Homo sapiens: one gene and its partners. The protein of the gene in region 5 interacts with the protein of the main gene of each other region in a biochemical or structural test. Each region holds a gene or a part of one and is shown on either strand. Other genes may lie near its edges.

What was found.
Region 1: the proteins of LIMK2 (region 5) and PBK interact in a test that uses a peptide from one of them, tested with the Homo sapiens proteins (one large-scale study listed by IntAct).
Region 2: the proteins of LIMK2 (region 5) and U2AF2 interact in a test that uses a peptide from one of them, tested with the Homo sapiens proteins (one large-scale study listed by IntAct).
Region 3: the proteins of LIMK2 (region 5) and F11R interact in a test that uses a peptide from one of them, tested with the Homo sapiens proteins (one large-scale study listed by IntAct).
Region 4: the proteins of LIMK2 (region 5) and RSBN1 interact in a test that uses a peptide from one of them, tested with the Homo sapiens proteins (one large-scale study listed by IntAct).
Region 6: the proteins of LIMK2 (region 5) and SLC15A5 interact in a test that uses a peptide from one of them, tested with the Homo sapiens proteins (one large-scale study listed by IntAct).
Region 7: the proteins of LIMK2 (region 5) and ADGRG1 interact in a test that uses a peptide from one of them, tested with the Homo sapiens proteins (one large-scale study listed by IntAct).

Annotation. Positions count from the first base shown.
Region 1 is NC_000008.11:27,831,318-27,834,817, forward strand, and holds part of PBK (lymphokine-activated killer T-cell-originated protein kinase), read right to left. Parts: intron 1,817-3,500; 5' UTR 1,797-1,816; coding exon 1,739-1,796; intron 1-1,738. UniProt on the Homo sapiens protein: Phosphorylates MAP kinase p38. Seems to be active only in mitosis. May also play a role in the activation of lymphoid cells.
Region 2 is NC_000019.10:55,658,035-55,661,534, forward strand, and holds part of U2AF2 (splicing factor U2AF 65 kDa subunit), read left to right. Parts: intron 1-827; exon of another isoform or gene 828-947; intron 948-1,175; coding exon 1,176-1,311; intron 1,312-2,142; coding exon 2,143-2,187; intron 2,188-2,481; coding exon 2,482-2,585; intron 2,586-3,003; coding exon 3,004-3,155; intron 3,156-3,500. UniProt on the Homo sapiens protein: Plays a role in pre-mRNA splicing and 3'-end processing. By recruiting PRPF19 and the PRP19C/Prp19 complex/NTC/Nineteen complex to the RNA polymerase II C-terminal domain (CTD), and thereby pre-mRNA, may couple transcription to splicing.
Region 3 is NC_000001.11:161,014,653-161,018,152, forward strand, and holds part of F11R (junctional adhesion molecule A isoform 1 precursor), read right to left. Parts: intron 1-3,500. UniProt on the Homo sapiens protein: Seems to play a role in epithelial tight junction formation. Appears early in primordial forms of cell junctions and recruits PARD3.
Region 4 is NC_000001.11:113,805,977-113,809,476, forward strand, and holds part of RSBN1 (lysine-specific demethylase 9), read right to left. Parts: intron 1-3,500. UniProt on the Homo sapiens protein: Histone demethylase that specifically demethylates dimethylated 'Lys-20' of histone H4 (H4K20me2), thereby modulating chromosome architecture.
Region 5 is NC_000022.11:31,264,298-31,267,797, forward strand, and holds part of LIMK2 (LIM domain kinase 2), read left to right. Parts: intron 1-1,648; coding exon 1,649-1,835; intron 1,836-2,686; coding exon 2,687-2,773; intron 2,774-3,478; coding exon 3,479-3,500. UniProt on the Homo sapiens protein: Serine/threonine-protein kinase that plays an essential role in the regulation of actin filament dynamics. Acts downstream of several Rho family GTPase signal transduction pathways.
Region 6 is NC_000012.12:16,271,186-16,274,685, forward strand, and holds part of SLC15A5 (solute carrier family 15 member 5), read right to left. Parts: exon of another isoform or gene 3,340-3,500; intron 2,252-3,339; exon of another isoform or gene 2,157-2,251; intron 1,599-2,156; coding exon 1,376-1,598; exon of another isoform or gene 1,362-1,375; intron 298-1,361; exon of another isoform or gene 1-297. UniProt on the Homo sapiens protein: Proton oligopeptide cotransporter.
Region 7 is NC_000016.10:57,662,849-57,666,067, reverse strand, and holds the end of ADGRG1 (adhesion G-protein coupled receptor G1 isoform b precursor), read right to left. Parts: intron 2,617-3,219; coding exon 2,486-2,616; 3' UTR 501-2,485; downstream 1-500. UniProt on the Homo sapiens protein: Adhesion G-protein coupled receptor (aGPCR) for steroid hormone 17alpha-hydroxypregnenolone (17-OH), which is involved in cell adhesion and cell-cell interactions.

The DNA of each region.
Region 1 (3,500 bases), on a different chromosome or scaffold from region 5:
ACTCCATTACGGGTGACAAAAGGAAACTCAAAAAAACAAGAAAAAGAAAAGAAATAACCATCCTAAATGTGTATGTACCTAATAACAAAGCTTCAAAATACATGAAGCAACAACTGATAGAAATTGGGGGTGGGGGGAAGCAGACAAATCCACATTGTAGTTGGAAACTTCAACTCTCTTCTCTCATAATTAATATAAAAAGTATACAGAATATCATTGACATTTGTAGAACATTGACATTTGTAGAACACCGTACCCAGTAAGAGTAGAAAAAAATGCCCTTTTCAAGTGCATGCAACATTCACCAACATACATAAACCTCAAGTCAGACTGATTAAGGAAAAAAATTAAGAAAATATACAATACTAGTACCAGATATGAAAAAGGACACTAGAAGGTTAATAAGGGTGTATCAAGAATAACTTCACACCAGTACATTTGAAAATTTAGAAGTGATGGACAAATTCCTTAAAAAACACTAACAAAATTCACAAAGAAAATAAGAGATCACTTGAATAGCCCTATATCTATTAACTGTGAAATCACAGTTAAACTCTTCCTACTAAGAAAACTCCAGGCCCAGATAGCTTTACTAGTGAATTCCACCAATTTAAGGAGGAATAATACCAATTCTACACAAAGTTAAAGAAAAAGATATTTCTATTAAAAAAAGAGAAACATTTCTCATCTTTATGAATACAGAATAACCTAATATTAAAACTAGACAGATATCCCAAAAAGACAACTGCAGTCCAATATCCCTCATGAATATAGACAATATCAGCAAATCAAGCAATATATAAAATATATCATGACCAAACTGGCTTTACACAAGGAAGTTCAGTTTAACACTTGAAAATTAACATAATTTACCACATTGAGAGATTTTAAAAGAAAATTTAATAGATTCAGAAAAAGCTCTCTACAAAGTTCAATACCCACTCACGATAATAACTAGAAATAGAAGAAAAATTCCTCAAACTAATAAAGGGTATTTGTGAAAAACCTACATCTAACATAATACATTGGGAACAAGGCAAGTATATCCACTAACATTTCTATTCAAAAACATACTGGAGCCAGTGCAATTAAAAAAAGTAAAAGAAACAAAGCCATACAGACTGGGGAACAAAGTAAAACTGTCTTTCTTCATCCACAAATGACCAACCATATACAACATCCCAAGCAATCTATTAAAAAGCTAATAGAATAAGTGAGTTTAGGACGGTTGCAGGATACAAGGTCAATATGAAAAATCTGTCACTAGAAATGGACAACAGAATATTTTCTCATGTTATTTTCTAGAAATTTAATTGTAGCTATTTTTTATATAATAGGAGTTAAGGGTCAAGGCTTATTTTTTGCACGTGGATATCTAGGTGTTTGTTGAAAAGATTTTCCTTTGTCCATTGAGTTGCCTTGGAAAATATCTTTCCCTCACAAGAGCAATGTATGGATGAGAGGGAGAAAGGTAAAGCAGTTCCTTAATGGGTCAAGCTAAGTTGATTCTTGGGCAGGGAGAGCCTCCAAACCTGTTAGATTGTCAATAAAATTAGTCCAGAGATGATCAAACCGTGGCCTATAAAATAAGTCTTATTTGTTAAGATTAACATCATAAAGGGGAGTTACATTAAAGTTTCTAAGTGACCGATAATAAAGGATCAAACTAAATAATACTAGGACATTTCTAAGAGAAACAACAATAGTAAAAAAAAAAATCTTACATCTGCTATCTTACCAGATTTCTTTTTTTCTGATAATTTGCTTGGTGTCTTGAAATTACTGATCCCTTCCATTGTGAAAGCCACTCTCAGTCCTACGATGAAAACAAATTGCAAGTTACACAGCAGATATAAAGAATACAACTCTCATTCATGAAGAAAAATGCCAATAGCCAGGCGCAGTGGATCATGCCTGTAATCCCAGCACTTTGGGAGGCTGAGGTGGGTGGATCACCTGAGGTCGGTGGATCACCTGAGGTCGGGAGTTCGAGACCAGCCCGACCAATATGGAGAAACCCCGTCTCTACTAAAAATACAAAATCAGCCAGGCGTGGTGGCGCATGCGTGTAATCCCAGCTGCTTGGGAGGCTGAGGCAGGAGAATCGCTTGAACCTGGGAGGCAGAGGTTGCGGTGAGCCGAGATCGTGCCATTGCACTCCAGCCTGGGCAACAAGAGCAAAACTCCGTCTCAAAAAAAAAAAAAAGCCTATAACATTATCGTTCACGTTATCACAAACAAAATTTGAGAGCTAAAAAGGACCTCAACAAACATTTAGCCCAATTTTACTTAAAATGAGGAAACTAAAACCAAAAAGTACAATTACTTACCCCCATCATAATATTAGTGATTGGGTATTTTTGTTTTCATTATAAAGTAATATATGCACTTAGCTAAAAAAAAAATCACCTAGTACAAAAAAGTAAACAGTATGTCTCCCTGTTATACTTCCCAGGAGCAGTTGTTAACAGCTCTCTTATATCCTTTAAGGAAACTGTTCAAGCAGCATTATTCATAACAGCCAAAAGGCAGAAACAACAGAACTCTGCATCAGATGATGAATGGATAAACAAAATGTGGCATATCTATACAATGGAATATTATTCAGTCATAAAAAGGAATAAAGTGCTGATATATACAAGAATGAACCTTGAAAACATTATACTAAATGAAAGAAGCCAGACACATAAAGGCTACATATATGATGATCCTTTTTTTTTTTTTTTTTTAGATGGAGTCTCACTCTGTCGCCCAGGCTGGAGTGCAGTGGCATGATCTCGACTCACTGCAACCTCTGCCTCCCAGGTTCAAGCAATTCTCCTGCCTTAGCCTCCTGAGTAGCTGGGACTACCAGCGCCCACCACCACACCTGGCTAATTTTTATATTTTTGGTAGAGACGGTGTTTCACCATATTGGCCAGGCTGGTCACGAACTCCCGACCTTGTGATAATGCCCGCCTGGGCCTCCCAAAGTGCTGGGATTACAGGCATAAGCCACCGTGCCCGTCCAATGATCCCATTTTTAGGAAATGTCCAGAATAGGCAAATCATGGAGACAAAAATAGCTGAATAGTTACTAAGGACTGGGAGACAAAGAATGCAGAATGACTGCCAGTGGGTATGGGATTTCTTTCTGGGGTGAAGAAAAGGTTCTAAAACCAGATAATGGTTTAATATATTCATCTCTGAGTATACTAGAAACTATTGAATTTTACACTTTCAAAAGGTGGATTTTTATGATACATTAATTATCTCAATAAATGGTTATAAAAATTGTCTATGAAAATAAAATGAGGCCGGGTATGGTGGCTCACGCCTGTAATCTCAGCACTTTGGGAGGCCAAGGCAGGCGGATCAGTTGACATCAGGAGTTCAAGACCAGCCTGGCCAACATGGCGAAACCTCGTCTCTACTAAAAATACAAAAAAATTAGCCAGGTGTGGTGGCGTGTACCTGTCATTCCAGCTACTCAGGAGGCTGAGGCAGAAGAATCGCTTGAA
Region 2 (3,500 bases), on a different chromosome or scaffold from region 5:
GGAATTGTGATGCTTTTCCAGACATTCACATTGCATCGCAAAAACGTGAGACAAAACACTGTGGGTGAGGCTGAAGTTTAACATCCTCCCTCAGTGCCCTTTCCTCCTCTTGTCCCCAGGGATGATCACTCCAGGAGATGCGTGTTAACATATATAAGCACCTTAACGTGTGCATCTGTTTTGTGTGTGTGCTTCATGGCTAGCTGAGAAATCTGGGTGTCTTTGAATTAAGGAAATGGTGTGGCGGTGCTCATGAACCCCCCCGCCCCCCCATGCTCATGGTTTATCCTCCATCTTGAAGGGCCGGTCTCTCTTCAGGGGTTGAAGGGTCTGGTGAGAGCAGAGGTTTCTGTGGTTTTGCCAGTGAGGCTCCGTTCCTAGTGGCTACCTCAGGCAAATAGAGGGTTGAGGGAGCCTGCTGGAGGCTGGCAGAGATACCCGCCCCTACTCACGCCTTTACAGTCTCTTCAGTACTTGGCTTTGAAGGGAGTGAGGCTGAGAGATTCAAGTGGTTTGGGATTCAAGTCTGGATGGGGCAAGCTCCTCCCCTGACCTGCTGAAGGAGAGGAGGGCCTCTTTCCCCTTCAGTCTGCAGATTCTCCGAGGCCCTTCTCTTCCCCTGGGAAGGGTGCTTGCTTCTGCATTATTCACCGGCTTGGGAAGGGATGGGTTGAGTTTCCCTGCTTCCTGGGGATATCAGATCCTGCCTGGCACCTGACCCCTAGTCCTGATGGTGGGGCTGTGGGTGCCAGCTAGTTGCAGAGGTCTTTCCTGAGGGGTCGCTGGGTCCCTTCAGGAAAACATCATTGGGTCTCTTGATTCCCCAGCCTCTAGCCCTGCCCCTCTCAGGGACGACCCTGGGGTCAGGCCCCTCAGCCCTCGAGGGGGACCAGGAGCCAGCCTCCTCTGTCTTCTCTGGCTCCCCAGCTCCTCCTGAGCATCCTCAGGTATCTTACACCCCGGGGGCATTTCCAGGCCCCGTCCCCCTGGTCCCCTCATGGTCCCTGGACTCGCTTGTGGACCCAGGAGGCCTGTTAATTCCCTTCCTCCATTGAATCCCTTCCCTTTGGGGGTGGCCTCCCTGGGGCTTGGGACATAGCCACCAGCGCGCAGGGTGGGCTGGGCCCGCATCCTTACTCCGCTTATCCCGTGCCCCTCCTCTCACCCTTGCCCAGAGCGGGACAAGGAGAACCGGCATCGGAAGCGCAGCCACAGCCGCTCTCGGAGCCGGGACCGCAAACGCCGGAGCCGGAGCCGCGACCGGCGCAACCGGGACCAGCGGAGCGCCTCCCGGGACAGGCGACGACGCAGGTACTAGGGCTCAGGGATCCCCTGGGCCAGCCTGGGAGTCGGGGGGTCGGTGTTGGCCGGCCTGTGGGTGGCCTGTGTGTGTCTGTGTCTGGGTCCGGGCCCTGTGTGGCTCGTTCGTTCTTTGTGTGGATCTGGGGGAGGGATCTACTGCTTGGTCTGTCTTGGATTCCGATTTTTTCCCCCGTTTCTGGGGTTTCTTTCATTTTCTGTCTTGGTGGTTGCTGGTGGGTTGCTGGGGGCAATAGGCTCTTTATCTGGAGCCTGGGAATTGATTCTGTGTTTTCCTTCACAAGGGGTTGTTCTCTGTCTCTGACTCTGAGGGCCTGTTCCTTCTTTTCGACTCTCTGTGGCTCTCTGTGGGACTCTCTTCGAGGGGGTTGGTCTCTGCCTCCAGTTTCTTTCTTCCCTGCCTCCCAGGAGAAGGGAGCTCTTGGGACCGAGGCAGTATCCACAGCCTGGGCTGACTTTTTGGCCCAGGGGTGTCGGTTTCCACCGCCTCTTCCCTTCTAGGCTCCCCTTTCTGTTCTCTGCCTCCTTAGGTGAGGAAGGGCAGGATAGGCGGAAGTCCTCCTGCCTCCTCCCGGCTCAGTTTCTCCAGCTAGAGACTGGTCCTTCCTGGCCCCTGGCCCCTTTCTCCTTTCCTCACTTCCTCTTTCCTGGGGGTGGGAGTGTTTGGGGGGAAATGGCAGGGCCGAGGGTGGCCTGCTTGCTGCTTGTTGACCTCGGCCCTGCTCCCACCCTGGGGCTCAGTGCCCTTGGGGGGGTGTGGCATGTGGGGAAGACGAGGGTCCCCAGTCACCCCTCCCCATACCTTTCCCTCCCACCCCCCAGCAAACCTTTGACCAGAGGCGCTAAAGAGGAGCACGGTGGACTGATGTGAGCTTCTCTTCCTGCCCCTTCCTCCCTGATGTCCACTCCCTTCACCTTCCTCACGCCCGTGCACCCTGTCCCGCCCATTTCCAGCCCTGGCCCAAGCACTGGGAAGAGTCCACTTACCTTGAAACCAGCACCCCTTTCCCAGGCCCTGCCCCAGACCCTCTCCTTCCCTGGAGAGAGTGGAGCTTACATGGTTGCGGGGAGGGTGAAAGGGTGCCTGGGAGGGGGCTCGCAGGCCCACTGTTGGTCAGACTGAGGTTGCCCTGCCCCGCTCTCCCCTCCCACCTCCCCCAGTCGTTCCCCCCGCCACGAGAAGAAGAAGAAGGTCCGTAAATACTGGGACGTGCCACCCCCAGGCTTTGAGCACATCACCCCAATGCAGTACAAGGCCATGCAAGGTAGGCCCCTGGCCAGGCTGCTCCCAGAGCGGGAGGGTACAGGGGTTGGGATTCTCCGTCAGTCATTCCCCTGCGTGTGTGCTTGGAGGGGGTCAAAGACACAGGTAGAGGGTTGCACACCCCTGGGGGTTCTGGTCTCTGCGCTTTTGAAGCCTCCCTAGAGGAGGAAATGACCAGAGACACCCGTGGTTGACAGGGGAATGAGGCCTCCATCTGGACGCCATTAGGAAGTGAGGCTTCTGAGGAGCAGCAGTTACTGGGTGGGGGCCCCGAGGGTGGAAAGAGGGTTCTGGAAGGTGCTAAGACCGAGAGCCTGTAGGAGCTTTCTGCTGAGGAGGGGAACTCCCAGTGTGTGGTGAGGGGTGGTCACTGAGCATTCCCCTGATGGGGTTTTATCCGGCTTTTATTCCCTTTGAAGCTGCGGGTCAGATTCCAGCCACTGCTCTTCTCCCCACCATGACCCCTGACGGTCTGGCTGTGACCCCAACGCCGGTGCCCGTGGTCGGGAGCCAGATGACCAGACAAGCCCGGCGCCTCTACGTGGGCAACATCCCCTTTGGCATCACTGAGGTACTGCCCTCCCCTGCCCCCTACCCTCTCCCTTGTCCCTCTACCCCGTTCCTCCCCTTCCCTCCATTCCCTTTCCCCAACCTGCACGGGTCAGACTCTGCTCCTGCAAGACCCCCCGGCCCCCTCCCAGACGGACCGATGGAGTTGAGCCAGCCAGGGGCCGGGCTGGGGGTGGCCCTCCCTCCCTCCTCTTCCCCTCTCCCGTCTCCCCTCCCCCCAACCTCCTCCAGCAACCCAGGGATCAAGCACACACATAATGTACCCACGTGTTGTACCTACGTGTCGGAGAGAGACAGAGAGGGAGACTTGGACACACACACACACACACACACACACACACACACA
Region 3 (3,500 bases), on a different chromosome or scaffold from region 5:
AGTGAGGCCAGGCACGGTGGCTCATGCCTGTAATCCCAGCACTTTGGGAGGCCAAGGCAGGCGGATCACTTGAAGTCAGGAATTCAAGACCAGCTTGGCCAACATGGTGAAACCCTATCTCTACTAAAAATACAAAAATTAGCCGGGCAGCTCACACCTGTAATCCCAGCACTTTGGGAGGCCAATGGGGGCAGATCACAAGGCCAGGAGATCAAGACCATCCTGGCTAACATGGTGAAATCCCATCTCTACTAAAAATACAAAAAAAAAAAAAAATTAGCAGGGAATGGTGGCGGGTGCCTGTAGTCCCAGCTACTTGGGAGGCTGAGGCAGGAGAATGGCGTGAACCCGGGAGGCAGAGCTTGCAGTGAGCCGAGATCACGCCACTGCACTCCAGCCTGGGTAACAGAGCAAGACTCCATCTCAAAAAAAAAAAATTAAATTAAAAAAATATGTACAAAAGGCTGGGCACAGTGGCTCATGCCTGTAATCCCAGCATTTTGGGAGGCCGAGGCAGGCAGATCACGAGGTCAGCAGATCGAGACCATCCTGGCTAACACGGTGAAACCCCGTCTCTACTAAAAAAAATACAAAAAATCAGCCGGAGTGGTGGCGGGCCCCTGTAGTCCCAGCTACTCGGGAGGCTGAGGCAGGAGAATGGCGTGAACCCGCGAGGCGGAGCTTGCAGTGAGCCGAGATTGCTCCAGTGCACTCCAGCCTGGGTGACAGAGCCAGACTCCATCTCAAAAAAAAAAATATATATATATATATATATACACACACACAAAAATTAGCCAAGAATGGTGGTGCACGCTTGTGTCCCAGCTACTCGGGAGGCTGAGGCAGGAGAATCACTTGAACCTGGGAGGCAGAGTCTGCAGTGAGACAAGATCACGCCACTGGACTCCTCCCTGGGCAACACAGCAAGACTTTGTCTCAAAAAAAAAAAAAAAGGCTGCAGTGAGCTATGATCATGCCATTGTACTCCAGCCTGGGCAACAGAGTGAGACCCTGTTTCAAAAACAACAACAACAACAACAAAACTCCATGATATATATATATAAGCAAGATGTAGAATATATGTAGTATGCCTCTTTTTGTGTCAGAAAGGGGAGAAAAAACAAGTATTATTTATATATACTTGTATCTGTAAAATGAAACACTGAAGAGACATTAGAAACTATTGGGGTTTGGGGTGAACAGGAGCAACATGGGAATGAGATACCCCACCCCTTTGATATCATTTTAATTATAAAACCATGTCAATTAACCTATTCTAATTAAATTTTTTTAAAAAAAATCACAGTAGCTCTATCTTGAATCGGAACTGGGCTGGAGACTCCACAAGACATGATCACAAAGGAACTGAAGAGCAACATGGTGAGGTAAAAGTGGTCTGGAGTGGCCAGGTGCAGGGGTTCACGCCTGTAATCCCAGCACTTTGGAAAGCCTAGGCAAGAGGATTACTTGAAGTCAGGAGTTCGAGACCAGCCTGGCCAACATGGTGAAAACCCGTCTCTACTAAAAATACAAAAAATTAGGGGCCGGGCGCGGTGGCTCACGCCTGTAATCCCAGCACTTTTGGAGGCCGTGGCGGGCAGATCATGAGGTCAGGAGATCAAGACCATCCTGGCTAACACAGTGAAACCTCGTCTCAACTAAAAATAGAAAAAATTAGCCAGGCATGGTGGCGGGCGCCTGTAGTCCCAGCTACTCAGGAGGCTGAGGCAGGAGAATGGCATGAACCCGGGAGGTGGAGTTTGCAGTGAGCCGAGATCGTGCCACTGTACTCCAGCCTGGCGACAGAGAGAGACTCTGTCTCAAAAACAAATAAATAAATAAATAATACAAAAAATTAGCCGGGCGTGGTGGCGCGTGCCTGTAGTCCCAGCTGCTGGGGAGGCTAAGGCAGGAGAATCGCTTGAAGCCGGGAGGTGGAGGTTGCAGTGAGCCAAGATCATGCTACTGCATTCCAGCCTGGGTAACAGAATGAGACTCCGTCTCAAAAAAAAAAAAAGTGATCTGGAGCCAGAAGGCAAAGACTAAAGGACACTGAAATTCCACTGCCACTCGTTTCCTAGTTCCAGGTAGAACTAGGAAGTGCCAGTCACCAGTTTCTAGTTTGGAGGGAACAATTCACTCCTGGGAGTAGAGGGAGAGGAAAGGAGGAGTGACTCACCAGTGTGGGGAAAAGCAAGAGAGATCAGATTGTTACTGTGTCTGTGTAGAAAGAAGTAGACATAGGAGACTCCATTTTGTTCTGTACTAAGAAAAATTCTTCTGCCTTGGGATGCTGTTAATCTATGGCCTTACCCCCAACCCCTTGCTCTCTGAAACATGTGCTGTGTCAAACTCAGGGTTAAATGGATTAAGGGTTGTGCAAGATGTGCTTTGTTAAACAAATGCTTGAAGGCAGCATGCTCCTTAAGAGTCATCACCACTCCCTAATCTCAAGTACCCAGGGACAAAAACACTGCGGAAGGCCGCAGGGACCTCTGCCTAGGAAAGCCAGGTATTGTCCAAGGTTTCTCCCCATGTGATAGTCTGAAATATGGCCTCGTGGGAAGGGAAAGACCTGACTGTCCCCCAGCCCAACACCTGTAAAGGGTCTGTGCTGAGGAGGATTAGTATAAGAGGAAGGCATGCCTCTTGCAGTTGAGACAAGAGAAAGGCATCTGTCTCCTGCCCGTCCCTGGGCAATGGAATGTCTCGGTATAAAACCAAGACATTGTACGTTCCATCTACTGAGATAGGGAAAAACCGCCTTAAGGCTGGAGGTGGGACATGCGGGCAGCAATATTGCTTTGTAAAGCATTGAGATGTTTATGTGTATGCATATCTAAAAGCACAGCACTTGATTCTTTACCTTGTCTATGATGCAAAGACCTTTGTTCACGTGTTTGTCTACTGACCCTCTCCCCACAATTGTCTTGTGACCCTGACACATCCCCCTCTCAGAGAAACACCCACGAATGATCAATAAATACTAAGGGAACTCAGAGGCTGGCGGGATCCTCCATGTGCTGAACGCTGGTTCCCCGGGTCTCCTTATTTCTTTCTCTATAGTTTGTCTCTGTGTCTTTTTCTTTTCCAAGTCTCGTTCCACCTTACGAGAAACACCCACAGGTGTGGAGGGGCAACCCACACCTTCACACCAGTCTACGGTTTTGAGGTATGCCTGCCCCTGAAAGGGCAAAGCTAGAAGGGCTTGAGTCAGAAACATCAATAGTAAACACTGGGACTCAGAGAATGACCCAGAAGCAGGGCAGCAGTTCTGCCCTGCCCACGCGGAACTCTTCAGTGATGATACCACACTCAAGGAAGGGCAGGGGAGCAAATGCCAGCATTCCAACCCAGGTTTCCCTCTCTCCCCTGTGGTTACACTGTAAGTTGACCTATCCACACTCACCTCTACTGTGTCTCTCCCTACCTGGTAGACAGCTGAACCTTTTCTAAGGGACAGGTTCCCTAGGGAAAGGGAGGCTAGTACTCTGGGTCAT
Region 4 (3,500 bases), on a different chromosome or scaffold from region 5:
TATTTCTGGACACAGTTTAAATTTCGTATGATTTCCATGCGCTACAAGGTCGTTCCAACTATTTTAAATTGTAAAAACCATTGTTAGGCCAGGCACAGTGGCTCATGCCTGTAATCCCAGCACTTGTGGGAGGCACATCACCTGAGGTCAGGAGTTTGAGACCAGTCTGGCCAACATGGTGAAACCCCATCTCTACTAAAAATACAAAATTAGCTGGGTGTGGTGGTGGGCGCCTGTAATCCCAGCTACTCAGGAGGCTGAGGCATAAGATTCCCATGAACCCAGGAGGTGGAGGTTGCACTGAGCTGAGATCACACCACTGCACTCCAGCCTGGCACAGAGCGAGACTCTGTCTCAAAAAAAAAAAAAAAATCATTGTTACATTACAGGTTGTACTGATTTTTGAAAAAAGTGCAAAAGCAATTCAATGGAAGATTAATCTTTTCAACAAAAGGTGCTAGAGCAACTGGATATCCTTAGGCAAGAAGAAAAAAAATGGCGACCTAAACCTCACACCTGTACAAAATTAACTCAAATGGATGACAGATTAAAATACAAAAGTTAAAATTATAAAACTTTTAGAAGAAAACAAAGGAGAAAATCTTTGGGATCTAGGACTTGGTATGTTAGATATGATGCCAAAAACATGATCCATTAAAGAAAAAAAAAAACTTAGTAAATTGGATATCAACAAAATTTAAAATTTTTGCTCTGTGAAGTATCCCACTGAGAAGGTAGAAAGGACCAGGCACAGTGGCTCCTGTCTGTAATCCCAACACTTTGGTAGGCCAAGGCGGGAGGATCACTTAAGCCCAGGAGTTTGAGACCAGCCTGGACAACACAGAGAGACCCTGCCTCTATCAAAAAAAAAAAAAAAAAAAAAAACATTAGCCAGGTGTGGTGGTGCACACGTGTGGTCTCAGCTACTCAGGAGGTTGAGGTGGGAGGATCACTTGAGCCCCAGAGGTTGAGGCTAGAGTGAGCCATGATCACATCACTGTGCTGCAGCCTGGGTAACTGAGTGAGACCCTCCCCAAAAAAACAAAAACAAACAGGCTGGGCGTGGTGGCTCATGCCTGTAATCCCAGCACTTTGGGAGACCAAGGCGGGCGGATCACCTGAGGTCAGGAGTTCAAGACCAGCCTGACCAATATGGCGAAACCCCGTCTCTACTGAAAAACACAAAAATTAGCCGGGCATGGTGGCAGATGCCTGTAATCACAGCTACTCGGGAGGCTGACATAGGAGAATCGCCTGAACCCAAGAGGTGGAGGTTGCAGTGAGCCAGGATCGTGCTACTACACTCCAGCCTGGGTGACAAAGTGAGAATCCATCTCAAAAAAAAAAAAAAACAACCAAAATAAAAACAAGCAAACAAACAAAAAGGATGGAAAGACAAGCAACAGATTGGGAGAAAATATGTGCAAACCATACAAAGAAGCTGCACCTGTGATCTACAAAAAATTATCAAAACCCAGTAATAAAAAATATACAATTCAAGGGCCGGGCGCAGTGGCTCACGCCTGAAATCCCAGCACTTTGGGAGGCTGAGGCGGGTGGATCACCTGAGGTCAGGAGTTCGAGAACAGCCTGGCCAACACAGTGAAACCCCGTCTCTACTAAAAATATAAAAAAGTAGCTGGGTGTGGTGGCAGGCACCTGTAATCCCAGCGATTCGGGAGGCTGAGGCAGGAGAATCGCTTGAACCCGGGAGGCAGAGGTTGCAGTGAGCCGAGATTGCACCATTGCTCTCCAGCCTGGGCAACAAGAGTGAAATTCTGTCTCAAAAAAAAAAATTATATATATATATATATGTATATGTATACACACACACACACACACACACACACAAAATTCAATTAGAAAATAGGCAAAAGGTATAAAGAGACATTTTACTGACCAGGATATATAGACAGCAAATGATGATATGAAAAGATGTGTATTATCACTAGCCATTTGGGAAATGCAAATTAAGATCATGATGATGTATCACCACACGTCTATTAAAATTGCTAAAATAAAAATAGTGACAATACCAGATACTGGCAAGAATGTGGAGAAAATGGATTTCTCTTACACCGCTGACAGGAATGTAAAATGGTACCGACACTCCAGAAAATACTTTGGCAGTATCTTAAAAAACAAACAAACAAAATAAATATATATAGTCATCCTTGGTATCCATGGAGGATTGGTTCCAGAGCCTCCCAGGGCAACAAAATCCAAGATGATCAAGTCCTTCATATAAAATGGCATAATAATTGCTTATAACCTATGCACATCCTCCCCTATATTTTAAATCATCTCCAGATTATTTATACCTAATACAATGTACATGCTATATAAATAATTGTTATACTGTATTGTTTAGGGAACAGTGACAAGAAAAAAAAAGTCTGCACAAGTCCAGTACAGACAATGTTTTTTTGAAAATATTTTCAATCCCAGGTTGGCTGAATCCATTGATGTGGAACCCATGGATACAGAGGGCTAATTGTATTTACCATACGACCAAAGAAATGAAAAGTTACATGCACACAAAAACCTGAACACCAATTTTCATAGAAGCTCTATCTATAATAGCCAAAAACTAGAAATAATCAAAATGTCCTTTCTTATACGGGAATGATTCAATAGGTGAACCATGGTACATCCATACCATGGAACACTATTCGGCAATGAAAAAGAGGGATGGATCTCAGGGACATCACACTGAGTGAAAAAGGGCAATCTCCAAAGATCACATACTGTATGATTCAACTTATATAATAGTCTCAAAATGACAAAACAGGTTAGTGGCTGCCAGAGGACAGGGACAGTAGAGAGACAGAGGGAGTGCCTAAGGCTGTAAAGGGTTTGTGGTGGTGGAACAGTTCTGTATCTTGATTGTAGTGGTGGTTACACTAATCTACATATGATAAAATAGCATATAACTACATATACATTGTACCAATGTCAATTTCCTGGTGTTGATATTATACAATAGTTATGTAAGATGTAGCCACTGAGGGAAACTGGTAAAAGGTAAGGACTTGACTATGTTTGCAATTTCCTGTGAATCATTAATTATCTAAAAAAAAAAAACAGTTAAAATAGTTTCCAAAAATCTGAGGATAAGCGAAGGAAGGACATAGCTTTGTAAGTAACAAGAATCTGCCCACTCTCCTTATTAATCTTAGAGTTGTTTTAGGGACCATGCATAATAAAATAATAAAGGCCGGTTTTAAGTAAGTGCCTACAATGAGCCAGGCACTGCTGTAAGTACTTTCACACAATGCCCTATTTAATCCACACAAGTTCCTTATAAATGAAATACCACAACCCCATTTTATAGACAGGAAAAGTGCAGTTGAGAGAGGGTAAAGCAATTTGTTCAGGCTCACACAGTAAGTGTTAGAGCCATGATTTAAACTCAGATTAATACCAGAGGCATGCCTCCTGCATACCACTGTAACAATAAAGATGTTCAGAGGACAAAAAAGATATCAGTCAAACTATGT
Region 5 (3,500 bases):
GAGGCAGAGCAAAAGGACAAGGGTAAGTAAACCTGTAGGTCGGGACAAGCCAAGAGCCATCCAGCGTCAGTCCTCTCTGGGTAGCCCAAGTAAAGCAGGAGCATACCCCAGAGAGAAAGTTCGCAGGGCTGTTCACCTGCAGTGCTGTGGACTTCAACCTTCTTGTTCCTTCTTCAGTAAGTGAAAATAACAGTCATTGACCATGACTATTATCGACCGCTTTTGAAAATGTAAACATAGTGACTTTATTGCTGTAAAAATCATACGTGTTTATCATCTTAAAATTCAGGAAACATGGACAGGTACAAAGATGTGCAAAATATCATCCAAAATCCCATTTGCTGGCCAGGCACGGTGGCTCACGCCTGTAATCCCAGCACATTGGGAGGCCGAGGCGGGCAAATCACTTGAGGTCAGGAGTTTGAGACCAGCCTGGCCAACATGGTGAAACCCTATCTCTACTAAAAATACAATAATTAGGCTGGGCGCAGTGGCTCACGCCTATAATCCCAGCACTTTGGGAGGCCGAGGTGGGCGAATCACAAGGTCAGGAGTTTGAGACTAGCCTGGCCAATATGGTGAAACCCCATCTCTACTAAAAATACAAAAATTAGGGCCGGGTGTGGTGGCTCACGCCTGTAATCCCAGCACTTAGGGAGGCCGAGACAGATGGATCGCGAGATCAGGAGTTCGAGACCAACCTAGCCAACATGGTGAAACCCCATCTCTACTAAAAAAATACAAAAATTATTCGGTTGTGGTGGCACACGCCTGTAATCCCAGCTACTTGGGAGGCTGAGGCAGGAGAATCTCTTGAACCTGGGAGGCAGAGGTTGCAGTGAGTGGAGATCCCGCCGTTGCACTCCAGCCTGGGCGACAGAGTGAGACTCCATCAAAAAAAAAAAAAAAAAAAAAAAAATTAGCCGGGCGTGGTGGCGTGCACCTATACTCCCAGCTACTTGGGAGGCTGAGGCAGGAGAATCGCTTGAACCTGGAAGGCGGAGGTCGCAGTGAGCCGAGATCGTGCCATTGCACTTCAGCCTGGGCGACAGAGCGAGACTCTGTCTCAAAAATAATAATAATAACAATAACTAGCCGGGCCTGGTGGCACATGCCTGTAGTCCCAGTTACTCAGGAGGCGGAGGCATGAGACTCAGGTGAACTAGGGAGACAGAGGTTGCAGTGAGCCAAGATCACACCACTGCACTCCAGCCTGGTTGACAGAGCGAGACTCTGTCTCAAAAAAAAAAAATCCCATTTGCTCATTTTTTGGATACTAGTATAACTATCACTCTAAACCAGTTAGTACTTAAATCAAGCAGATATGGGAGATGGTGAATTACCATCTACAGTGTTGTCATATATGTCACATACTGAGCATTATCAGCTAGTAGAATCTAGTTAATTGTTCTATGTGTGATGTATGCAGAGTTCCCATTTTGAATGTGTTTTTACTATGCTTAAATAAATGACTGATGTCAGCAACCCCAAAATGATACATCTGATGTAAGAGCCCCTGTTCCCCAATAATAACATCTAAACTATAGACATTGGAATGAACAGGTGCCCCTAAGTTTCCTCCCTCCAGGGTTTCTTGGCCGGTCTCTGAGGACTACACATCCCTACTCCCGTCTTTCCTCATCTTCAGGCGCAGTAACAGTATCTCCAAGTCCCCTGGCCCCAGCTCCCCAAAGGAGCCCCTGCTGTTCAGCCGTGACATCAGCCGCTCAGAATCCCTTCGTTGTTCCAGCAGCTATTCACAGCAGATCTTCCGGCCCTGTGACCTAATCCATGGGGAGGTCCTGGGGAAGGGCTTCTTTGGGCAGGCTATCAAGGTGAGCGCAGGCAACAATTGCTTTGCTCTTCTGCCCCCAGTCCCTCTGTCACTGTCTTTCGGGGATTTCTCATCACTTGGCCCCACCCCACACCATGCAGGATGCCAGGCCTCCTTCCTGGCTTTGGGTGTTGGTGTGAGAGGTATCCTTCACCCCCACCCAGGCCACCTAAGGTCAATGTTGCTGTTACAGTGAGCTTGTGGACCTGGAGATCCAGGTTGGGTTGAGCTGTGCCTGTGGCCCTCCTGCCTCCAGTCAGTGGGTGTTTGTTAGGTGCCTGCAGACCTCAGTACCGGGCATGCTACAAGGAGCACACAGGGGAATGGCTCCTGCCTCCCTGGTGAACAGTCTCAGGGACTAACCTCTCTCTTTCTCTCCTCCTCCTCCTCTTCTGCTGAGAACTGGGAGGGGGGGTCAGGTAAGACGTGTGTCTCAGCTTGGGGGCAGCAGGGCTGGAGAGCTCACCCCCGATCCACCCAGCTCCCTGGTGCATGTCTTTGGCACTGACCTTCCTGCCCCCAGACTTCTGTTCACTCAGGAGACTCACTTCTATGCCAAATGACCAGAGCCCCTGCTTGGCTTGGCAGCATCCCCTCCTGCCTTCTTCCCCACTTCCCTTTTCTGGGTTCTTGCCTGTCCTCTGTGCATGCCCAGCTCTCCAGGAAAGAGGGTTTGCTTCCGTGTGAGTCCCATGTTGCTCCACGCTGCATCTTCCACACATGAACTCTGTCATTCTGACCCGGCTCAGTGTGCCCTCCAAGGGATGGGATGGCCAGCTGCATAGATTTTCTCAAACAGTTCTCCAGAACTTCCTCTGGTCTCAGCACCATTAACAGTCACCCTCCCTGTAGGTGACACACAAAGCCACGGGCAAAGTGATGGTCATGAAAGAGTTAATTCGATGTGATGAGGAGACCCAGAAAACTTTTCTGACTGAGGTAAGAAGATGGAGGGGGCCCGGGAGGTTGGTGTCACCATTGGAAGAGAGAAGACCTTACAAATAATGGCTTCAAGAGAAAATACAGTTTGGAATTACTGTCTTAAAGACTAAGCAGAAAAGAGCCCTAGAGGAATATCCCACTCCCTCTAAATTACAGCGTAATTATTTGTTCAATGAACACTTACTAAAAGCAACACAAACAGGGTACAAGGGATGCAGTAACAAAAGATACAGGGTTCAGAAGAGCTCTCAGGTTATGAGGATGATGGACATGAAAACACTCCAATTTAGTACAACTCAATGTTATAATCCTCACCTGAACGCCCTGCTAAGGGAGCCTGGAGGGGAGCTCCCTGAGCACTCACACTCCTTGGGCATTTACAGTTTTCACTACCCCTCCCAAGTTACTTCATGGAGTAACTTAAGTTGGGGACACCTGTGGTCTGGGTATTGCCCTCCAAGCCACTTGGCCACTCCCACCCCAGTTCTCCCAATGCAGTTCCAAGGGTAAGGCCTATGAAGCCATCTCCATCTATATGGTGGTGGTCTTCCCTCATCCTGATCTTAGTGCCCTGTCATATCACAAGATAGGAGGTAGGAGATACAGGTGGTAACACTTGTCAAGCTGATTCCTTGGAGGGAAGAGGTAAGGAAGACAGTGAGAAGTTAACCACCAGCTTTCCTTGGCTTCCCCCACCCCCAGGTGAAAGTGATGCGCAGCCTGG
Region 6 (3,500 bases), on a different chromosome or scaffold from region 5:
AAATATTTCATTCATATAATGTCTCCTTTGTAATCAACACTGAGAAATGTCACTTTGATTAAACACAACTCTGAATGACTAAGACCACAGTACAATAAATTCTCCAGAGCTATCTTTCAGAACAACTGATTGCTCTCCAGTCTTAATCCTCCAGAGTCTTATTTAATCAAAATGATGTTGCTAATTAAGGATTAAAACCTCCGAATAGAATAAAAAAGAAGGATTTTTCTTTCTCCTTTGGGCAGGTCAAGGAGGCAGAATTTGCTGCAAGGAAGTAAAGAGTCCCTTCTACCTTTGGTAAGACTGCATTGTTCTCTGACATTAGGACTTAATCCAAAATAGGGCTGAGTGCTTTGTAATATTAATATAATTGGAGAAAGAAAAAAGGGGAGCAAGAGAAAGAAAAAGAAAGAAAGAGAAAAGAGGAACTGCCTCGGATAGCTACATATGCCTATACATACACATATAGACACTATTTACTCTAAAAATGGACAATGTAGCTCACATCTGTTTGACATCCACTGATAGATAACAAAGAATAACAAAGAAGTTTTATACTAAATTCTTAACTACCCTCCCTTAAGATCCATATATTAATTTGTTTTCTTGAATTTGTATTTGGTAATATAAATTGTTTCCTTAAAAAACACAAAAACCGACGAACTCCATAAGAACTCGTTGGGAGAGACAAAGATTCACAGGAAGGCTGTTTGATTTTCATGGAATATAAACTCTTTTAGGTGTTGGGAGCGAACTGGGTGAGAAACAGAGATGCTGGGTGATGCTTTAACAAATTGCAAAATACTTCTTTCATCTTTGCATCTTCTCTCTGCATTGGCCTAGAAATTTATAATCTCTGCCAAATTAGTCTATTACAATACAGACATACTAACAGCTACCATTTTTTGATCACTTACTATGTGCCAAGTTCTTTGCCAGCAATACACATGGTGTTACCTCTAATAAAACCGGAGAAGAGGAGGTATTATCCCCCTTCAGAAATGAATAAACTGAGGTAGAGAATAAATGACTAGGTCAAGGTCAGTCAGCCTGTGTTAAGCAGAGTCCAGACTTCCACCCAGGTCTCTTTGGTTCCAAAGCCACATTCTATTCTGCAGGACAAGGCACTTCAAATCTTTTTACCTGGAGGATAAATGTGTCCGCGTGTGTTGGGAAGGTGCTGGTGAGTTGTACTGGTCTGCATGAGACTTAGAAGCTCCTGTGATTACTGACTGAATCATCATCACAGATTCATCACATCATCACTTAGCCCAATTCATCACAAAGACTGAGCAACTACTACCCAAATGGAATCAGAAAGTAAACAGTGAGAATGGTCATAAGCCTCTTTTCTCTCCTAGCCAGTGCTACTTACCAGTTAAAAAAAGACATCGTTTTTTGTGATCCATACTCCTGAAGGCCAAAAGCACCCAGTGGACAGACGATGGCTCTTACGCCTCCAATGCCAAGGCAAATGGTCAGCAGTGCTACATAAAACAGCCTGTGCTGCTCTGTTTTTGGTATGTTGTTAACTGCATGGTAAGTGCCCAGATAGAAATCTTCCAAGGGAAAAGCCACCACAGATAACAAAGCAGTGCCTGTAGGTGGAGAAAAAAAAAGAGTAAATGTAGCATAGAACAAGTGGATCACCAAATCACATTTTAAACAGGGTTTTTCTCTGACAGTGGCATCATTTTGTGATTGTCTTATCCAAACATTTATGGTAGTCATTGCAATTTCAGGGATAGCCTGATGTTTTCCAATTGTAAAAATTTCCTTCAATATGTGTCTCAACTAATCCGGAGTTTTAGGTTTTTTTTTTTCTCCTCAAGCTTGAACTATGTTTTCTCTCAGAATGTATGAGCAAATCATGTTTATTTTGCCAAAATTAAAATAACTCAGGAAAGCATTGTATAAAAAATGAAGCTGTTAGTATTCCCACCCCCAGAGAAAACCACTGTTAATAAAGGTTATTTGTTCTTAATCAATCGAGTGACAGAAAACACCATGATCTCACACATCTCAGAAGCTTATTACCTAAAAGCTTTTAAGAAGAACATTATCAGAGTTAGAGGAGAACACAGCCTTTTTTTTTTTCTTTCCTACTTCTGTTTCTCCTTGTAATGTCTTTCTTATTTCTCTTATTTCTCACACAGCTGGATGGAGCCTTCTTTGCCACAAACAGAGTTGAGAAAGCTGGGGACAGAGGAGTGTGAGTGGAAGGAGAGGGGACCTAAAGTGACAAAAGAAGGTCGAGTATCCTTCTCTCTTCCACCTTGCAGGGACCACACTTGATGACTTTCCTTGTCTAATAAAAATAACTATACAATTCCATGCTTTTGCTAAGCTCTTTATATTTTGCCAAGCATGCTCATGGACTATATTGTTTCATCTTGGAAAAACTTTGTGATGTGAGTGGATAGATTTTCTTATTCAATTTTTTTTTAAAGAAATAAGTTCAGTGAGATTAAGTGGCTTGCCCAATGTTATAAAGTAACCCAGTTGTAATCTCCCTCTTCTTGGACCTCCTACCATCAAGTAGTCAAATAAATTTTTTTTTTTTTTTGGAAATAGCATTCCCCCCCATCAGATTACAAAAGTAATACATTCTTACTTCAGAAAATTTGAAAAATAGAGGAAAGCACTCAGAATAATACAAAAGGCCCATAATCTCATTACTCAGAGATCATCTTTACATATATAATTTTACTTTTATAAAATAAAATATTTTAAAAATATTTATATTTTACTTAAAAATATTTTACTTATATATAAATATATTTTATAAATGTATTTTACTTAAATAAATTGAGGTTACACTGTTGAGTTTTTAATGTAACCAAATAATATGAACAATTTTTAAAATACCTTTATACTTTTCCAACATGATTTCTAGTGATGATGTGATATTCTAATCATAATGTGTTTTAAAATACCTTTTCAGTTATTTTTAAATGAATACTGTAAAATACCCTGACACATAAGTTTTGTGCACATCTTTATTAGCCTAAGTTCTCAGTCAAAGGCATTCCTATTTTTATTGCTTCTTAATACCACTGGCAAATGTTCTTTAACAATGCAACAAGTTAATCTCCTACCATCATTGTATGAGAAGATCTTCATTCATACTAGTTAGCATCATTAATTTTTTTGTTTTGATGATTCGATTAGTGAAAAATGGCTCCTCCATGTTCGTTTTGCTCTTCATTTTATTAATTTGGCATTAATGTTATTTGGTATAAATTTTTATACAGTTATTTCATGTGATTTGTTTTCTCAATTAGATTATAAATTCCTTACAGATAAAAATTTGGTCTAATGCTTCCATCTCCCCTACAGAGGCTTTCACAATGTAAAGACTATATGCCCTTAATAGCTATTTGGCAACAGATTCATTTACCATGAGGTGAGCCCTTTAAATTATTGAGTTTGAAATGTTCCCTTTTAAGGTTAGCCAGATATGAAACTAACTGCTCTCTTTCTACCACTTAGTCTTCTCT
Region 7 (3,219 bases), on a different chromosome or scaffold from region 5:
AGGCTTGGGAAGGTTTGGCCTCTGTCCTTTGGAGCTGGGGGCATAAGAGGAGCCCCCCACCTGCAGAAAGGTGGGGACAGAGGTCAGTGGAGGGAGTGGAGGGGGTGGAGGGAGGGCTGGGAGAGCAGCAGGGCACAGGGGTTCTTGGTCCCTGCAGGTCCCAAGATCCCACATTCACGCCCCTCAGAGGGCACTGCCAGTCTAGACCCAGCTGCCTCACACCCACCTTGTCCAATCCAAGACTCTGAGCCTCTTCCCCTGCTGGGCATCCCCCTAGAGTGGCCAGGGGAGGAGGGAGGAGCCTGCAGAAGGGAGAGAGTGGACTGTGGGCCTTGGGGAGGACTTTGGCTGCACTGGGACCTCTTACCTGAACACAGTAGCAATGATCCGTTGTGACTGCCCTCATCACAGGGAAGATGGGAACCTGCGTGATCTGCCTCACCTGGGCCTTAGGAGCGGGAGGAGAGATTGATTTGGTGGAACAAGGTTAAAGGCAGGGATGGGAGAGAAGTCCAGTGATTTAATTCTTGCAGCCCACCTGCTGCAGAGTGATCAGTAAACTGGTTGCATAAATCCCAGGACCAGGCAGCTTTTGACTGTAATCTCTTTGGCCAGAAAATGTTTTGGATTCGCCAAAATTTTAAAATCAGGGGATGTCAAACCACAGTCTGGATTTCCCATTTCTCATAAAAGGCAGGTGGTCTGGCTACATGGGCCCTCATCCCTGCAAGGTAGTGACCAGCTGGAGCTGATGAGCAGCCACGCTCTCAGCATGGGGTTGGGAGTCTCCAGTTCGCCACAGGCCCCACCACTCCCCATTGCCTCCCCAGCACAGACACCAAGTTGCCATTTATCTTCCCCTGTGCCCTGGTTGATGAGGTTTCCAGCAGTCGATTTTTTTTTTTTCTTCACACACAGCCCTCTTCTCTCTTTCATGTTTCCTGATTGGCCCCAAGGTATTTGTATTAGTATCAGTGACTCTTTCAATAGAAGCACAGGAAAAAGCTCAGAAGGAAATGACCCAAAATGCTTACGCCAGTTTGCTAGGTGATTACAACAGCTGATTTTTATTTTTCTTCTTGATTCTCTTCTACAGTTTCCAAATTCTCTACAATGAACATGTACTTCTTTTTAATATCAAAAGACAAAAGAATTGGTACGTAAAAAGAACATCCTTCCCATCTTCAAGGTCAAGATTGAACGCTGACTCCTGCAGGAAGTCTTCCAGGATTCCCAGGCAGGAATGATGGCTCCCTGTCCCTGTAGCTCCAGGAGTTCTTGCTTCACGCACGCCTCACATACCAGACTGAATGTTGGCAGGAGGAGTGACCAGGTCGGTCATCTGTGTCCCTACCACCTACAACAGGCCAGCAATCTACCCGTGTGTGTTTGTTGGACAGAATTAACCATGATGGGCGGCCGAGGGCGCCTGGAGCTATTTGGGGGCTTGGAGAGAACCTCTTAGGAGAGTGTCAGGCCCTAGGCCAGTGTCACCAGAGGAGGTCAGTCTCAGTCCTTGGAGTGGTGGGATGGAAACCAGACGGGACTGGCATGGTCCACAGTTCTTGCCACAAGAGGGCTTCAGGAGAGGCTGAGGGCCCCTCTGAGGCGTGTGCTTGGTCAGGGTGAGCAAGGGCAATGCAGCTCATACAAAGGCCCAGATGGACAGAGGGACCTAGCCCAGCCCACGCATCGGTACCGAGCCTGGCTCAGGGGCAGGCCGAGGCTTGTGCAGTAGACAAACATTTACAGCAGACACCAGGCAGCTCCTGGAAACCACTCCCCAAAAAACAGCATTGGAATCGGGGACCCCCAGCTGTGAACGAAGGAGCAAGGAGGCCCTGGGAGAGGAGGAGAACCCCAGGGAAGATGGAGGGAGGACTGGGGGGCTGAGGGAGGGAGGGGGCCTGGGCTCAGAGGTAGGCGAGCTGCTGCTGTGCTCCTGGCAAAGGGCCTCTCCTCCGCCAGGGCTCTGGCCCTGAAGGTCTGCCCTGGGCCCCATTCGCCCTGGGTGCCACCTGAGGTTAAAATGACAGAGGATGCAGAGTGCCCTCAGGGTGACCACGAGAGACAGAGCAACTGGAGCCACATTTCTGTCCCAGGCAGGGGCACAGGATTAAGGATGTGCCAGACCCTCAAGATCCAAGGCCTGGCCCCCAGCAATGAGGGCTGGGCCCAGGGGTTGTAAGGAGAGACCAGGCCTCCAGCTGGGTTGGGACAGATGTGGGGACAGTACCCTAGGCAGCATGGCGGCGCACTTCTGAGTCCCGTGGGAGCTGAGTGAGAGCCGAGTAGTCCCCAAGGCCAATTCAAAAGCCCAGCCCGGGAGTCCGTCCACCATGGCAACGGCCCATCTCTCCATGGTCGTTGGGCTTTCCAAAGTCTGCGGCTGACTGGCCTGGGGCTGGGCCGGGCTCGGGGGCCACAGGCAGTGTGCGACGAGGCCGAATCTCTGCTTCATCACATGGGCAGGTGGGCTGGAGGCCTAGATGCGGCTGGACGAGGTGCTGCCCGAGCTGATGGGGAGCCTGGCGCTGTCTGAGTTGCTCTTCAGAGGGGAGGGGCCACCCCGGGCCTGCAGCCGCATGGACCAGTACCAGATGAAGATGAGGAAGCCTGCGGGCAGTGAGGGCACGGGGTCAGCAGGTGGGGGAGCCCCACCCCATCCCTCCTCCTCCCTCCCCAGCCATTGTGACTCGGGTCTGCCCCACCTCTCCATAGTGTTTGCCAAGCACGTGCTGTCGGGCACCCATGAGACCCAGCGAGCACCTCCTATGAGCCGGGCACTGTGCTGCGTCCCCGTGTGGCCTCTCACTGTCACAAACTTCCTAGGCCCATCCTATTCATTACTATTCTCTTTTGTAAACAAGGAAACTGAGGCCCAGGAGGCTCAGGTAAAGGGACGTGGCTGAGCCAGGGCTCAAACTGTGGTGAACAGGCTCTGAAGTCCACCCACTTAAGCACTGTGAGATTTTGCACCCCTCAAATTAATAGCACTATGATGTATCCACAGCTTAGTAAATGTCTGTGTGAATGTATGGGCCTCACTTACAATCCTGAGTCCCCTCATCTCACAGGCAGGAATGAAGGCTTGAATGTTAAATAACCGAAATGTGGTAACATCTCCCCACCACCAACTCCCAGCTCCCATTCTAGGGTGACCCTGTATGGGAGGCTGGCCTTGAACCCCATGAGAGCCCCTGGGCCTGGCCATACAAC